Regions from separate parts of the Homo sapiens genome. Here region 2 is linked to region 1. Evidence: fine-mapped expression QTL. Tissue or cell type: amygdala. Region 1 holds a variant in brackets; the other region holds the start of a gene. All regions are shown on one strand. Distances are from middle to middle.

Region 1 (8,264 bases):
ACATGGATTAGATGGGGGGACACTGAGGACAGTGAATTTACTTCCTTTTCAAGAAAGAAAATGCCATGGTGTTTAGAACGTAAGAAGCTCCACTTAGATATTTGTCAACGATTCTTACTGCCTCAAACTTCCAGGTAGCCTTCTAGGACTTTTACAATCTAGGCTTCATAACTTTGATAGATTTAAAAAATACATATGTAAGAGGGTGGATATGCATCTCTGTGTCACTTGGGACTGGGATAATTTGTGTATGTAAGTTGCCCATGAAAACGAGGACTTGTACTTCTTTAAATACAGTGACATTTCTCTTACTCAGAATTACTTACTGTACAACTTCAACAGCCTAGGAACAGGAAGGCTTCAGAGCAGTCAAAATAAACATCATACTACTCATGCACTAAAACTCATGAAGCTTACTCAGGGCCCATTTGTTCTCGGTTTTCTTCTTCAGATTTAGCTCCTTTTGGCTTTTATTATTTTTAATTAACACATAATAATTGTACATATTTATGGGGTACAGAGTGATATTTTGATACATATGTATACAAATGTGTAATGATCAAATCAGGTTAATTAGCATATTCATCACCTCAAACATTTATCATTTCCTTGTGTTGTATCAAGCTAATTTTTATAGATGTTTGTTTTTTCCTGTGTTAAAGGATTTATGCCTCCACAGAACTGGTTCCTTGACCGAGAGTCAAATCCAGGCTGCAGCAGTACCCATTTATGAGTCCTAGCACAAATTCTTATAAATGATAATGCTTTATAAGCTGCTTTTGCATATATTATCTAACTTTAATCTTCACTCACTGTAATTTTTCAGTACTTCCTTACTTTCTGGCAATACAAGATGTTCCAGATTCATTTTGTAAATTTTCTGACCTAGTCCTAGAATCAGATATTTCTTCAAGGAGTCTGGGTTTTTGTTTGTCTGTTTGTTTGTTTGTTTTTTAATTGAAGAATGGTGTTAGAAATCAAGATCTGGGTGCTAGGTGTGCTCATTGCTATTGGAGACCCATTGGTTCTATGCCATTTCAGCTGGCATATCAAGGAAATGTATGTGTGTTCACTAACCTGTGGGTGTACAAGTCTATACGTATTTCTATGTGTAAACATCTATGTACGTAAATTCATACCAATGTCTTCAATTCAAAACCATTACCACATGGTTAATTTTAGCCTCCTCCCCTAGCAAACCTGTAATTCCCTAGTCCAGTAGTAAAAATCTGGCTACCACCACCTACCATCCATTTACTTAATTGTTCATTTCCAGTATACATGTATGGTAGTGTAGTGTCAGGCTGTGTACTCATATCCCCACGGGAAACAACCTACCAGGGAGAGTTCGGTGTTTATGTATCATTTCTTTTGACTGTAGTCTTACAGATTCTATTCATTTCCAAAGTTGTTTAGGTCAGCTCTTTTCCCAACTCCCACAGTGAGGTTGTTTTATGTATTTATGATAGAGTTAGATTGCTTCATCACCTTTATCATTCCATTCTGATGTTTCTCAACCTCTTAAATGATTTTTTTAAAATTTGTATGCATTAAGATTCATTCTTTGTGCTGAAAAGTGCAATGAATTTTGAATTTTGACAAATAGTATCCAACGTTACAGAATCATGCTGAATAGGTTCACTAAAAAATTTCTTGTACTTCACCTATTCAACCCTTCCTCTTGTCTCATGAGCCCTTGTCAGCCACTGATTTTTTTTTTTTTTACTCTGTTGCCCAAGCTGGAGTGCAGTGCCACAATCTCTGCTCATTGCAACCTCTGCCTCCCGGGTTCAGGCAATTCTCTGCCTCAGCCCCCCAGGTAGCTGGGATTACAGGCGTCCGCCACCATGCCCGGCTAATTTTTGTATTTTTAGTGGAGATGGGGTTTCACCATGTTGCCCAGGCTGATCTCGAACTCCTGACCTTGTGATCCACCTGCCTCAGCGTCCCAAAGTGCTGGGATTACACATGTGAGCCACTGTGCCCGGCCAGCCACTGATTTTTAAAACCATTGCTGTAGTTTTGCCTTTTAAGACTGGCTTCTTTCATTTATCAATATGCATTTAAGTTTCATCCATGTATTTTTGCCACTTTTTGTTCCATTTTTTAAATCACTGATGAGTATTTCACTGCTTGGATGTGCCTATTTTGTTTAATCCATTCACTTATTAAAGGACATCTTGGTACTTTCAGTTTTTGGTGGTTATAAATCAAACTGTTGTAAATATTTGTGTGCAACTTTGTGTGGACATAAATTTCAAATCCAGTTGCATAAATACCCAGCAGCACAAATGGTACAGGCACTTTTGAAGACAGTTTGGCAGTTTCTTAAACTGCCTTCAAAAGTGCCTGTACCACTTTGCATTTCCGCCACCAATGAATGAAACTTCCTGTTACTCCACATCCTCATCAACAATTTATATTGTCAGATTTGTGGATGTTGCAGATTGAAGCCGGTGTGTGGTGATATCTCATTATTGCTTTCATTTGCAATTTTCTAGCGACAAATGATGTTGAGCATTTTTTCGTATACTTATTTGCCATCTCTATGTCGTCCTTGATGAGGTATCTGTTCAAATTTTCCGTCTATTTTTAATTGAGTAATTGGGTTTTTTTACTGTTGCGTTTAAGAGGTTTTTTTTTTTTTTTTGCATATTTTGAATACAAGTCATTTATCAGTTATGTGTTTTGAAGATATATTCTCCCACTCTGTGGTTTGTCTTGATTCTCTCAAAAGTGTCTTTTTAGAGCAGAAGTTTTTTAATCTTAGTAAAGTCCAGCTTATCAATTTTTTTCAAAGGTGATTCTTTTGATCTCGGCTCACTGCAAGCTCCGCCTCCCAGGGTTCACGCCATTCTCCTGCCTCAGCCTCCCGAGTAGCTGGGACTACAGGCGCCCGCCCCCACGCCCGGCTAATTTTTTTGTATTTTTAGTAGAGACGGGGTTTCACCGTGTTAGCCAAGATGGCCTTCATCTCCTGACCTCGTGATACCCCCGCCTCGGCCTCCCAAAATGCTGGGATTACAGGCGTGAGCCACCTCGCCCGGCCAGCTAGAACTTTTCAACTTGTATGGCTGAAACTCTATACCCATTGGACATCAACTCCCTACCCATTGGACAGTCCCCTCTGCCCACTCTGGGTAATCACCATACTACTTTCTGCTTCTATGAGTTTGACTATTTTAGATACTCATATAAGTGGGATCATGTAAGATTTGTCCTTACATCACAGGCTTATTTCACTTAAAATAATGTCCTTAAGATTCAGACATGTTATAGCATATAATGGGATTTTCTTCTTTTTTAAGACTTAATAATATTCCATTGCATGTACATATCACATTTTGCTTATCTATTCATCCATTGATAGACATTTAGATTGTTCCCGCCCCTTGGCTGTTGTGAATTATGCTGCTATGCACATCAGAATGCAAATATCTACTCAAGACTCTGCTTTCAGTTCTTTGTGATAAATATCTATATGTGAGATCACTAGATCTTATGGTAATTCTATTTGTGATTTTTTTTGAGGAAACCTCAGTACTGTTTTCCATAACGGCTACATGATTTTCAGTTCTCACCAACAGTGCGCAAGGGTTCCAATATCCTCCTCAATCATCATCTCCATATCCTCATCAGTGCTTACTCTTTCCTGGTTTTTTGATCGTAGCCATCCTAATGGATGTGGGTGATATTTCATTGTCGTTTTGATTTGCATTTCCCTTGTCATTAGTGATGTCAAACAACTTTTAATATACCTGTTGACCATTTGTATGTCTTCTTTGGAGAAATGACTATTAAGTCCTCTGCCTATGTTTTCGTTTGTTTGTTTGTTTGTTTGTTTGTTTGTTTGTTTGTTTTGAGACGGAGTCTCACTCTGTCCTCCAGGCTGGAGTGCAGTGGCGTGCTCTCGGCTCACTGCAAGCTCTGCCTCCTGGGTACACACCATTCTCCCACCTCAGCCTCTCGAGTAGCTGGGACTACAGGCACCCACCACGACGCCCGGCTAATTTTTTTGTGCTTTTAATAGAGATGGGGTTTCACCGTATTAGCCAGGATGGTCT[T/C]GATCTCCTGACCTCGTGATCTGCCCCCCTCGGCCTCCCAAAGTGCTGGGATTGCAGGCGTGAGCCCACCTCACCCGGCCCTTTGCCTGTGTTTTAATAGGTTGTTTATTTTGTTTATTTTTTTCTCTTTTGGGTATAGAGTTGTAGACGTCTTATATTTTTAAAATATTAATCTCTTACTATATATATAATTTGCAAATATTTTATCCTGTTCTTTGTGTTCCCTTTTCATTCTGTGACTGTTTTCTTTGCTGACAGGAGTGTTTTGGTTTGCTGTAGTCCCACTTGTCAATTTTCGCTCTTGTTGCCGTGCTTTTGGTTTCCTATTCATTGCCTTTTGTGGTTTCAATTGAGCATTTTACCTGATTCCGTTTTATTCTTCTTCTTCGCTCAGTTTCTGATGAGAAGTTGGAGGTAATTCTTATGTTTGTTCCTCTATAGATAAGGTGCATTTTCCTCTGGCCTCTCTCAAGACTTTTTCTTACTTTTGAATTTTCTGCAGTTTCAATACAATATGTCTAAATATAGTTGGTTTTTGTTTTATGGTTTTTTGTTTTTGTATTTATCCTGCTTGTGTTCTCTGAGCTTCTTAGATCTGTGGATCTGTGGTTTAATGTCTGACCAAACACAAATTTGTGGAAATGTTCAGTCATTGTTGCTTCAAATATTTATTCTGTTCATTTCTTTCTTTTACTTCTGATATCCCCATTATATGAATGTTACACCTTTTGTAGTCGTCCCACAATTTGTGGAGTTTTCTCTTTTTTTCCCCAGTCTATTTTGTGTGTGTGTTTTCATTTTGAAAGTTTCTATTGACATATTCTCAAGCTCAGGGAATTTGTTCCTTAGCTGTGTCCATTCTACTAATGAACCCATCAAAGACATTTTTTTTTTTCAAATCTCTAGCTTATTTATTTTATTTATTTATTTTTTTGAGACGGAGTCTCGCTCTGTCACCCAGGCTGGAGTGCAGTGGCGCGATCTTGGCTCACTGCAAGCTCTGCCTTCCGGGTTCACGCCATTCCCCCGCCTCAGCCTTCCGAGTAGCTGGGACTACAGGCGCCCACAACCATGCCCAGCTAATTTTTTGTATTTTTAGTAGAGATGGGGTTTCACCGTGTTAGCCAGGATGGTCTCTATCTCCTGACCTCGTGATCCCCCCTCCTCGGCCTCCCAAAGTGCTGGGATTACAGGCGTGAGCCACTGCACCCAGCCATCTCTAGCTAATTTTTTTTTATCTCTAGTGTTTTTTAACTCTAACCTTTTTTTTGCTTTTTTCTTAGAATTTCCATCTCTGCTTACACTGCTCATCTTTTCCTTACACGCTGTCTACTTGATTTACTAGAGCTCTTACCACATTAATCATGATAGCTGTTTTAAATTCCCAGTTCGATAATTCCAACATCCCTGTTGTATCTGAGTCTGGTTCTAATGCTTTTTCTGTCTCTTCAAATTGTGATTTTTGCCTTTTAATATGTCTTGTAATTTTCTTGATAGCTGGACATACTGGATAGAAGGAACTGCTGTAAATAGGCCGTTAGTGTGTGGTGGCAAGGCATGAGAGGAGAGTAAACATTCTATAGTCCTCTGGAGCAGGTCTCAATCTCTTAGTGAACCTGTGCCCCTGGGCTGTGAACCTCACAAGTGCATCTCAGTCCCCACACCCTGCCCTTGGGTGGGACAGAATGACTCTGGGGGCTGGAGTTTGGTATATTTCCCTTTCCCCAGTTTAGCTAGGTTCTGGTAAAACTCCAACATTTTAGGCTCTTTTAGAACAGTTTCTCTTGAGGGGAGACAGAGTACTCTGGTGTATTTCAGAATGGTTCTTTTCGCTCTTTACCTGCTAGGAATACAAGGGGACTTTCCTCTGATACTCACTGTAAGAACCTGGTGGAGCTCCTGCAGTAAAACTCACAAAAATGTGGTTACCCCTCTATGACTGGGTCTCACCGGAGTGTTTAACTCTCAAACTTGTCCACACTGAGCCTGCAGTAATTTGTCAGTTACAGTTCAGTTTTCCAAGGCGGGCGTTGCTTCCTGCAGTGGTTTCTGTGAGTAGGTTCCGGCTCCAGTTAGGTTGTAACTCTCTGTATTCACCTGTCTGTCTCTCCAATTTTGGGGGCAGCAGTTTACCCTGTGATTTCACATGCCTGATAGTTTTAAGGAGAATTATTGATTTTTTCAGTTTGTTCATCTTTTTACTTATTAGGACAGAGAGGCAACTTCCAAACCCCTTACATACCGGTCTGGAAACTTGAAGTCTGTAATAACTTTTTCATCAGTCTGGCTCACATCCTCCTTTGACCTTCAGAGTAGTCCTTAAGCAAGTCATTGCTATTTCTGCCACAGTGTTAGGTAGCAGCTGAAATGTAAGTATCGCATAGCCACAGTCTACGGAGTTCACCAGATCGCTCATCAGCTTTCCTGGAGGAAATTATCTTAGATCAGTGGTAATTCTCAATTGGGGACACTCTGCCCTCTAGGGAACATTTGGAAATGTCTGGAGACATTTTTAGTTGTTACAGCTGAGGAAGGTACGACTGGCATCTAGCAGGTAGAGGATGCTACTAACCATCTTACACGGCACAGGAAAACCCTCCACAACCAAGAATTATCCTGTCCAAAATGTCAATAACTCTGAGATTAAAAATCCCTGTCCTAGACAAACCCTGAGGTTTTCTTCTCCTACTCCCACCCCACCCCTCATCTTCACTTCCACCAATGTTGAGCCAACTCAATGCCTTCAGTGCAATTTTACAACTTTGAAATCCAACTTTTCTCTTGATTATTTTTCGGTCTCATCACCATAATCAGCATGCCAACACTTTCCTGAGTATCTACTGCCCACCAGGCAGCATGCTTGTTACCTCGTTATCTTGCTTCATTCATTCTCGTCAAGTATTAATTGAGCCCTTACTAGGTGCCAGGTAAACCACTGAGGGAATATGAGGGAAAGATGGCTGTCCCTGTTTTTATAGATGAGGGAGCTGAAGCTCACAGAGGTTAAGAGAAGTGTCCCAAATCACACAGCTCATAACTGGCTTGGCCCGCCGGACTTTGAGGTCACAGGTCTTTATAGTATGCCAAGCTAGTGCTGCACATGCTGAGAGAAGCCACCATAACTCTTCTGTCTTCTGGGATTCGTGGGTGCCCAGATGCTCTGTCTAATTGAGGCTAGCACTAAGTGTTTGCCAAAGTTGGGAAAACCAGGGCAGGATTGAGGAGGTGACACCATCAGGGCAGGGAGAGGAACAGAACCCCAATGTTCCAAGTCCCCACCCAGGTGCTCTGCAGGCCTCCCAGAGAGTGTGAATGGGTTTTGATGGGGATAATAGTCTCTCCAAATACACTCACTGCTAGTCTTTCCTATTGAGCAATTCAGCTTTCAAATGCTCGGTACATTAGACCAAAGGATGGGTGTTTTGTCTTCTTTTTTCCCTGCCTTTTTCTTTTTTAGGGAAAGCAATTTGCTCCTTTCTGATTTAGAATGAGATCTGGCAAGTAAGTGCTTGTTCTCCCTCCTTCCCTTGTTCCCCCACTCCCTCCCCACCCTTCAGTTAAAAAAAAAATCTTGGGGGGAGAGAGGGGGAATAAGAACACAGGATCCATGCTAAGCAAAACTATTTGCATAAGCTGTACACTTGGTCCTTAGAGCTTGAGCTGATCTAACCTATGACAAATTCCTCTGTCTCGGCTACCTGCCAGCTGCGTTTTCATCGGGGCTGGCAAGACAACTGAAGTCTACATTCTGTACTAATTAACGACCTTCAGGGGAGAAGACCACCAATTGCAATGCCAGCACACTTCGCTTGTTAAAGGGGACAGGGGGCCTTGTTGGACAAGGCCCAGGCTTTTTTCTTTGGGTGGTGGGCGGGTAAGCAGGCCAGGAAGGGTGAGGGGTGGGCTGGGGGTGGGGGGGGCGGGGTGCAGTAAACAGACCAGAAAGACAAACTCCAAGTTGTAGTAAGAGTTGGGAAGGCATCTGCACATGCCAGAACATTGTAGTGAACCCTGGGCTTCTGCAAGGTAACTCCACAGCAAGCAGAAAGGGGCCTGGGGGAGAGGGGCTCTCTTTTGGGGAAAGGAGTTCTGCTGACCTGAGAGCTGCAGGTGGAGCCCGCACTATCATGGGTAGCCTTGTTTAAAAACATCAGGGCTGCCTTATCTGGCTGGCTTCATGGTGGGAAGTGCCCTGGGGCC
Region 2 (8,000 bases), 340 kb before region 1:
GCAAACCACTGCCTTTGGTTTATTAGGAAACTACAAAACAAATGGGCCAGTAGGAATGATGTATCAATTGTGGGATCCACGTGGTAGGCGGAATTGCAACGTTAAAGGCTGCGGCCAAAATCAAAACACCTCCACATGAACTGAGGGCATCAGAACCCAGCGCTCAGAAAGTAAAGCCTCACCGAAAGCCAACCAGGTTCCCTCCCGCGCCCAGTGGGGCAAACAGCTAGAGAAGCAAACAGCTAGAAGGCCATAAATGCCCTACAGTAAAAAAAAAAAAAAAAGAATTTCTTTGGTCTCCCTTACCACTAATCAAGGCAGGCAGCATATTTATCTTGACGTTGTTCCTTTAACCTGTATTTGCCCCCATCCCCCTCGAGATTTCCTCTTGGGCTTATCTCCAAGCCATCCTTTTCCTTAAAAGATTAAAGATTTGAACACAACCAGTGAGCAGTATATGTAATCTTCAAAGAGCACTTTAGCCATCATAAAGAATATTTTAACAGGCACTAATTTTTTTTGCCTTAACCACACCTGTCCTCATAAACCATTTATGAGTTTAGCAGAGAAAGCGAATATATAAAGCTCAGATAAAGAAAAAGCAACCCAGGAATGAAACTTCAGACTTTAGACTACTCAAGACCACCCCTCCTCCAAACTCCTGAACTAAAATGAAAGTTCCTACGGCCTTTTGCCTCTCCCCGGACATCTCCCAAAAGAGCTCCCCCATCTCCCTCCCCGGCTCAAGCCTCATCTTACCGGTGGCACACAGAGCAATGAAGGTCTGAGCATGCTTGCGGATCAGAGACAGCTTCTCCCGCTGCTGGGGCAGCTTGCGCAAGATGTGCTCAATGAAGTCATGAGGAGTGACAGCTGCCAGGTTCCACTTCAACTTCCCCAGCACCACCAGTTCCCACTCCTGGAGGGGAAGGCAGGAAGAGAAGAGGAGAATCTAAATTCCACAGGCTGACCTGGTGTAGGGGGCTGGGGGTTGGGCTCCAGACCAGTTTTAAGGCCGCTCATTAGGACGTGGCTGCTAGATTGTAAGGCGGGCCCATTTGTCAATGTGCCCCTGAAGCTTTGAAGTTGTTGACAGCTCTTCTTATGCTTCAAATGTCAGGCTCCACTGAAAATAATGAGAGCCCAGGTAGCTGTTGCCAAGATTCTATTTTCTTCTACTTCGTTTCCACTCCAGCTCCCCTTACCCCCTCCCAACCCTGACTTGCAGGCAATACTGCTTCCCGCCCACCCAGAAAGCTGAACCTACAATGAGATACGGCCAAGGTCATTGTGGCCCTTTCATGGTAATTTATTGTATATGTCTCTATCACCGAATTAATAGTCTTTTTAATCTTCATGGAAAAATGATGCACACAGATAAAGCTCAAAATAAGGTTCCTTGGCCCAACTCCTTGGCAACCAATTAGCTTGCTTTTACTTAGTGCCAAAAAGTGCCTTTATCTCTCTGCTGCTCAAACTCCCCTTTTACATATCAGGCAGAAATTCTGGGGATGTGACACTCAGCCCTTTCCCCTAAATGTTTCACAGGCCATTGTCATCATGACTAAAGGACCACATGGTCATTAGCAACCTCATTTTGCAGATGGAGGTGATCTGGGGCAAGGTGAGGGTGCCTGCTCAGTGTCACAGCATCCCTCAGTGCAAGTGTGGGGACCACACAACCCTGTCTCTTGGGTCTCTCACCAGCAACCCACCTGAAAAAGAACCTTGTTTCCCTCTTTCACTGAGATACTTACGGGAAACTGTGCTCAAAGGGAAACGGTCCAAAATAAAACATTAAAAATATCGTATGTGCTACCAGAAAATATGCCTATCCACTGAGCTGTCATCAGAAGAATGAGAGGCAGGGCCTGTTTGCCAATGCACCCTCTCTCCCATTCACCTGGAGAACCTGGAATCTCTTTCATTTGCTAAACCAGCAACCAGAGCACCAGTCCCACAGCTGTGGGGCTGGGGGTGATTCCCTTTCCCTCCCAGGCCTCAGCCTTCTCATTTGTAAAATAGGACTCTTCCAAATCCCAACTTCTGGGATAAAGGGAATAGGAAAAAGCCAAGTTTGTTTGTAGCAATATATTGCTTGGCTAGTCCTGGAAAGATTTGGGTGTCCTGAAGAACATCTCAATTCACCATCCTCTCGAAACAAATGAACCATATGAAGATGATTTTTCCTGCTCTCTCATGAGAAAAACAAATTGGTTCCCAATTCTAACAATGTTTTCTTCATAAGCTTTAAAATCTGCCTTGGCTTTCTGTGTACAGCCGGGGTAAAGCACCCCAATAAACTACTAAACCACCATCATCTTCAAAGATGGCTTGAAATGCCAGCCCTTCCTCTTCACAGGGTAATGCGAGTACGAACCACTGGTCTTGCACCGTTATTAAAGGAAGCAGATCTCCCAGAAGAAAGCACCTTTCTAGGCCTCTCGGACCAAACCAGAAGCAGCTAAAACCTGGCAGCGGTTCAAAGGTGAAGTCATTCAGGCCCCTCTCCACATTCTCGGCAATTCCTCCCCCAACCTTGTGCATGTCTTCCACTAGATGGCAGCAGAGCCCCAGAAAGGAAGGCTCCTCACAAAGAGCTCAGTTCAAGAAGCCAGCCTCAGCCCTGTGGACTTTGTGCGGGCCCTACCAGTGAGGAGGGGGAGGGGCGGGAAGGAGGGGGTGCTTTTCTGAACAGTGCAAAGAGGGGTGTGCAAACCACCGAAGGTGGGCCTTGGAGCCGCTATTCCATGCGGTACAGCTGCAATATGGTCGTCTTATATGTCAAGCTGCAGGGAAAAGGAGTTAGATCAGGTGGGAAAAAGGTTCCCTGGTAGAAAAGCAGAGATAAGACAGGATCCCTGGGGTTGTACAGAGGTCACAGTCCCACTGGAGGTAGGAACCCAGGCCTCGGACTCCTTCAGTGAAAGGCCACATTTTGACTTTGCTCAAAAGTCAATGAACTGATATTTAGTGAACAGCTATTATGTGTTGGTATCTTGAGACTTTGTAGATATAGAGGGCATTACCTTTGAACTCCAAGTTTTTAGGAGACACCACAGCCACATACCTATCATGTGAACACGTTCTCAGACTATTTTTGGAAATTTGGAATTTAATTAAAATATTATCACTGTTAATTAAAATATTCCATGCGTCCCCTACACACATGCATACACAATTGCAAATGAGTCTCACCAACCCAAATCTCCATGAGGATCTTATTCACAGATGTAGCCTCAGTGCTGGGCACGGAGCCTGGGCACATAGTAGGAACACACAAAAAATAAACAGTGGTTTCCTATTAAATGAGCTATCGCCCATAAGTGGGTAAATTCTATTGGTGGGGTCATTCTGGATCCCAAGAATTTGCTCTGGCAGTGGTGATAGAAGGCATATTGTTGGCCAGGGGAAAGCGGGAATCGCAGAAAGGAAGGGAGGAAGGGGCCGGTCATTACCAGCAGCTCCTGAGGCTTGATGGAGTTGTCGGTGTAAATGCACAGCTTCTCCGCGGTCAGCGGGCTGGTCTCTTTGAGTTTGGAGGCCAGGAACATGCAGACAGCACCCAGGAGTTGCAGATGGGACTTCGGAGTCGGGACCCCAGCCAAGAAACGGTCCAGGTAATTCATGGCCAGAGGGAAGACCTCTTCTTCGCACTTCTGTTCCTCACAGACCTATAATGGGAGTGGGAAAGGGTTGGGGGGCGGGGGTGGAGAGCATAGCATCAGCAAAAGAGAAAAAGAATAAAAAAGCGTAATCTATCGAAACAAAAAAAATTAATTTTTTTTTGTGGGAGGGGGAGGGGACCAGAATGCGTGATAAGAATAAAGAACAAAGATGAGGAAACTGGAGTGAATCAGAATAGCCCATCAGTGCTTTGGTATTCCCAGGGATCCTATAAAAGGGGGTGAACTACAGCTCCAAAACGGGGAGTCGGAGAAGTGCGCAGCAGCCGCGGCAGCTCCGCGACGCTCCCTTTGGCTACTCCTTCGCGCACTCTAACTCACTCACTCTTTTTTGGATTTCGTCATCTTTTCAAAAAATCAATAAAAATATTCTGGAGGCTCCGGGGGTCCACTTCTTGGTCTCATCCGGATCCCCAGATCCTCCTCTATCATTCCCGACAATTGGAAAAAATGTCTGGGGGGGTCCCTGCGGCCCAGGGGCCGCTTTTGGGGGGGCGGGTGAGGAGAGGTGGGGAAGAGAGGGGGAGGGAGGAGAGGAGGAAGAGCGCCGCAGCCTCGGCAGCTGGAGTCGGAGCAGGGGGGGATGGTTTCAAAAAATAATTAAAAATCGAGGAAATATCCTAGAAAAGCCCTTTTGGCGTGAAAACCCCAAAGAAGAGCCAGGCTTCCCGAAACAGAGGTTTCGGGTGCCAGAAAGGTCTGTATTCCGACCCCTGGGGCTTTGGATCCCGGGAGGAAACTTGAAGGGGTGAGCGCCGCGGCGGGAGTGTCCGGCTGCGGCCCACAAGGACAGAAACTAGGGAACGCGGTGACGAGCGAGGGGAAAGACGGGAGCAGAGAGCCCTGGAAAGAGGCACGGGGGGCTCCCACCTCTCCTTCAGGGGTGACCCGGTATCCCCCCTACACACACCCCCTCCCCCCCTTCCTACCCCACCCAAATCTCCGCACCGAGGAAGCTGGAAAACCAAACTGTAAGTAATCTTCGTGAGGTGGGGGGTGGGGGAGAGGGCACGATTAGAAGTGGGGTGGCCGGGATAATGGGGTGCGAGGGTAAGCGGGCGACGTTTCCCAGCCTTTCCAAAGGGAGTTTGCAAAGCAACATGGCGAAACCACGGCAGGTCCAGAGCTGTGCATACGTGGGCACACGGCTCGCTGGGCAAAGACTTGGAGTGAGGGGCAAGAAGCGGTTCTTTTGGGTTCCCCTGAAACACGCGTTTCTTCAATGGGACTTCCGGGGCTCCCGAATTCCCCGTTTCTCTCCTTCTCCCTCCTCCCTCCACCTCCCCGGTGAAGTGCCAGCGCGGAGTCGCGACCACAGGCGGGGACCTGAGGCCAAGACGAATTTGCTCTGGCCTTTTGGGGGGGGTTGCCTTTCTACTCGGGGTCCCGATTTCAGGCCCCGACTCTCTTCCTGGCCGCAGCGCAAGCAGCCGCGGCGGCTTCGCAAAAGACAGGTCGCGAGGGGGGTGGGAAGAAGAGGCAGCCACATGCAGGAACACGCGCGCGGGATGCTCCCCTACCCCCGCCCAGGACAGCCTCGCTTCTCCCAGATTTTCCTCCCCCCTCTGCCTCCCCAGTTTATCTGGAGAGGAACAGAAATAAAGCCACGCGTCTCGCCAGAAGGCGCGCGGTAAACTCCCGCACAGGAGCCGGGAGGCCGGCGCGGGGATTGCCCTCTCCCAGGTTTAGGGCTCCGGCCGGGGACCCGAGCATCCGGAGGGGTCCTGGCTCCTGGCGAGCGCCACCCCCCGACCTACCTCCAGCATCCAGGTGGCCACCATTCTGCGCATGTAGGGTTGGATGTCCTTCTGCACGCACTTGAAGTAGGAGCACTGCGGAAGGTAGCGCTCCTCGATGGTGAGCAGGTTCTGCAGGACGCGGTCGTCTCGGAGCAGGTTGCGGTCCCGCACGGCCCTGCGGACCGGGTCCACCTCGTGGCACAGCAGCTCCATGGCCAGCCCGGCGGCCCCTCTCCCTCCTGCTTTCCCCGGCCTGGAAAAAGGTTTTTCTGTTTTTGTTTTTTGGAAGGGGAGGGGAGAGCGTTCCCCTGACCTCCTTCCTTTGGCTAAATAGGGGGTTTTCGGGGGAGAGGTGAGGGCAGAGAGAGAAGGTGGAGCAGAAGGGAGGCGAGGATTGGGTGGTGGGCGAGCAGAGCCTCGGGGCTGCCTCACTCGCACCGGTCCTCCCCTTAAAACTGGTCTCGCTCTCCCCTGCTCGCTCTTCTCCGCTCTGAAGCGGTGACGCAAGCTGGCTGGGCAGTTAGCTCTCCTCCCTCTCCCCGCGCTCCCCGCTCTGGTTCCTCCTCCCCTTTCCTCCCCTCCCGGTCCTCCCCTCCTCCTTTCAATCTCTCCCTCCCTCCCTCCTTTTCCCCTCTCGTTATTAAGGAGAACAGCAGCTGGCCCGACCCAACTTCAAACGCGGTCCCCCGCCACCCCCCACCCCTCTCCCTCCATCCAGCCCTGCATGCCAGGGGCCCCGGACAGGGCAACCCACAAAAAACTACCGACTCCTATTTCTGCCCTCTAATTTCACTCATTCTGTAGGTGTAGCACGCCAAAATACGACCCTCCAACTTTGGCTTCTTCAAAACGGATCCTAATCCTCCTGCCCTTGTATTTAAGATCCAGGAATGTAGGGTAGATTATCTGAAGATGGGGTGACCTCAGACAATTTAGAAATAGGTCCCTTAAGTGAAAAATAAGGGAGGGGGTGATTTTAGAAAATAGCAACCTCGCATACCCAGAGATAAAGGTCATGTCCCTGAAGTCTGTGTTCCTGATAACTTCGAAGCTGTTTCGAAAGCCCCGATTAAAGGGACCAGAACAACGTCCCTTCTGCCCCCCCCTGCAGAGTGTGTGCAGAGGAAGAAGAGGGAGGGAGAGGTGGGTATTAGGAAGGAAGGGGGGTGCTTCTCTGGAGGGATAGAATGTGATCCTCGAGCAGAAACCATCGTGTTTCTGGGGGCTCTTCGGGCGCCGTGGGGCGACGCGGTGCAGCGTCTAGGGCCGCCGCAGGCCGGGGGCAGGGCTCCCAGCGGTTCCCCCGCGGCCAGCGGCCACGCAGGAAAAACCCGCTTCCTCGCCCCTGCATCTGCTGACAAGCCGCCCGAGGTGTCTGCGCTGAGCGTGGCCACACCGATGCAGCTTTCTAGGAAATGGCCCGGGAGGGGGAGGGGGCGAGTGAGGGATTAGGTCCGGCTCCCCCTCGCTCCCCCTGCGCAAACACCACCACCCCTTCCTTTCCCCGGAGGCATGAGGCCTCCACGCTCGGTCCTTCGCCCGCATCCTCGCCGACCCCTCCGGTTTCGCGCCTCACTCGCCAGGCTTTCTCCCTGGGAGCCGACTGCGGTGAAGTCGCCGCCAGCACGGTCGGCCCTGACACGTGCTCTAACGCATGCTTGAGTCAAGGCTGTCTTTACAGGAGATACGATCTGGTGGCGTTTCTTCACCTCCTTCCTCCCGTCACCCCCCACCCCCACCGCGCCCTTTGGTGTATTTCACTCCAGGAGGAAGGGGAGAGACCAGCGCCCTGATGTGCTGGCCAAGCTGGCACGTGCAGCGGGCATGGCGTGGCTCGAGCTCTCTGGGCACACCGAGGCCGACTGAGTGCCTCCCTCACCGAGAGAGGGGGCCCGGGCAGGGGCGCGGAGAGCCAGCAAGGCGGGGTGGGGCGCGGGCTGGGTGAGCCGTACACTAGGTTCCCTGCAAGGCGGAGGAGGGGAGCGAATAAACTAGAGGTGCAAGCGATTAACTCAGGCCCCGGAGCCAGCCTCTTTAAACGAGGGTGGGGCGGAAGGGGTGGTGGGGGGGAAAGGAGGGGATATCGCTTTAAAAGGGTGAGGAAGAGTTTGGGGCGCCGTCTCCCCTCCCTCTATTTGCATAGCCAATAGCTCTGGGGCTCCTGCTACTGCGCGCTGATTGTTACCGGGCAGATTACTTTTTTTTTTTTTTTTTTTTTTTTTTTTTAGTAGGACGCGTTCCCCACTACATCAAAAGGAAGCCAAGGGAGGGCGGAGGGAGAGCGGGCGCTGGGGCGGGCGAAAGCTGGGGAGAGGCCCGGCCGCCTCCGACCTTATCAATAGCAGCGGGAATGAGTATCCCATCTCCTATATGTAAAGAAAGGGGAGGGAAGGGGCGGGCGAGGAAAATGTCTAATTGCTGTGGAAGCCATTAGCTTTCAGGAAGAAAAAAAGCTCGCTGAAAAACCCAAGTTGCAAACTCAAAATGAAACAGTCCAGCGCCGCGGATGACACCCGGGCCGAATACCGTGTACACCCGCACACAGTCGGCCCCGAACAATCACCTATTGGTTTTA

What was found. PIP is the estimated chance that this variant, and not a neighbour inherited with it, causes the effect.
Region 2: CCND2-AS1 starts here. The variant in region 1 is fine-mapped to the expression of CCND2-AS1 in amygdala (GTEx, PIP above 0.99).

What each region holds. Positions count from the first base shown.
Region 1 is chr12:3,931,411-3,939,674 of GRCh38, reverse strand. All of the region lies in intron 2 of LOC105369608 (a long non-coding RNA gene), which reads left to right. Among named protein-coding and RNA genes, the nearest start is that of PARP11, 62 kb to the right of the region's middle. The variant T/C (reference allele first, on the strand shown) is at 4,065.
Region 2 is chr12:4,271,679-4,279,678 of GRCh38, reverse strand. CCND2-AS1 (CCND2 antisense RNA 1) reads left to right here and starts at 3,495. Exons shown (of 2, transcript NR_125790.1): 1 at 3,495-3,620. It overlaps CCND2 (cyclin D2), which reads right to left and starts at 5,917. Exons shown (of 5, transcript NM_001759.4): 1 at 5,444-5,917; 2 at 3,459-3,674; 3 at 760-919. The coding sequence starts at 5,638. RefSeq lists silencers at 656-848, 5,987-6,076, 6,607-6,726, 7,507-7,626, 7,611-7,802.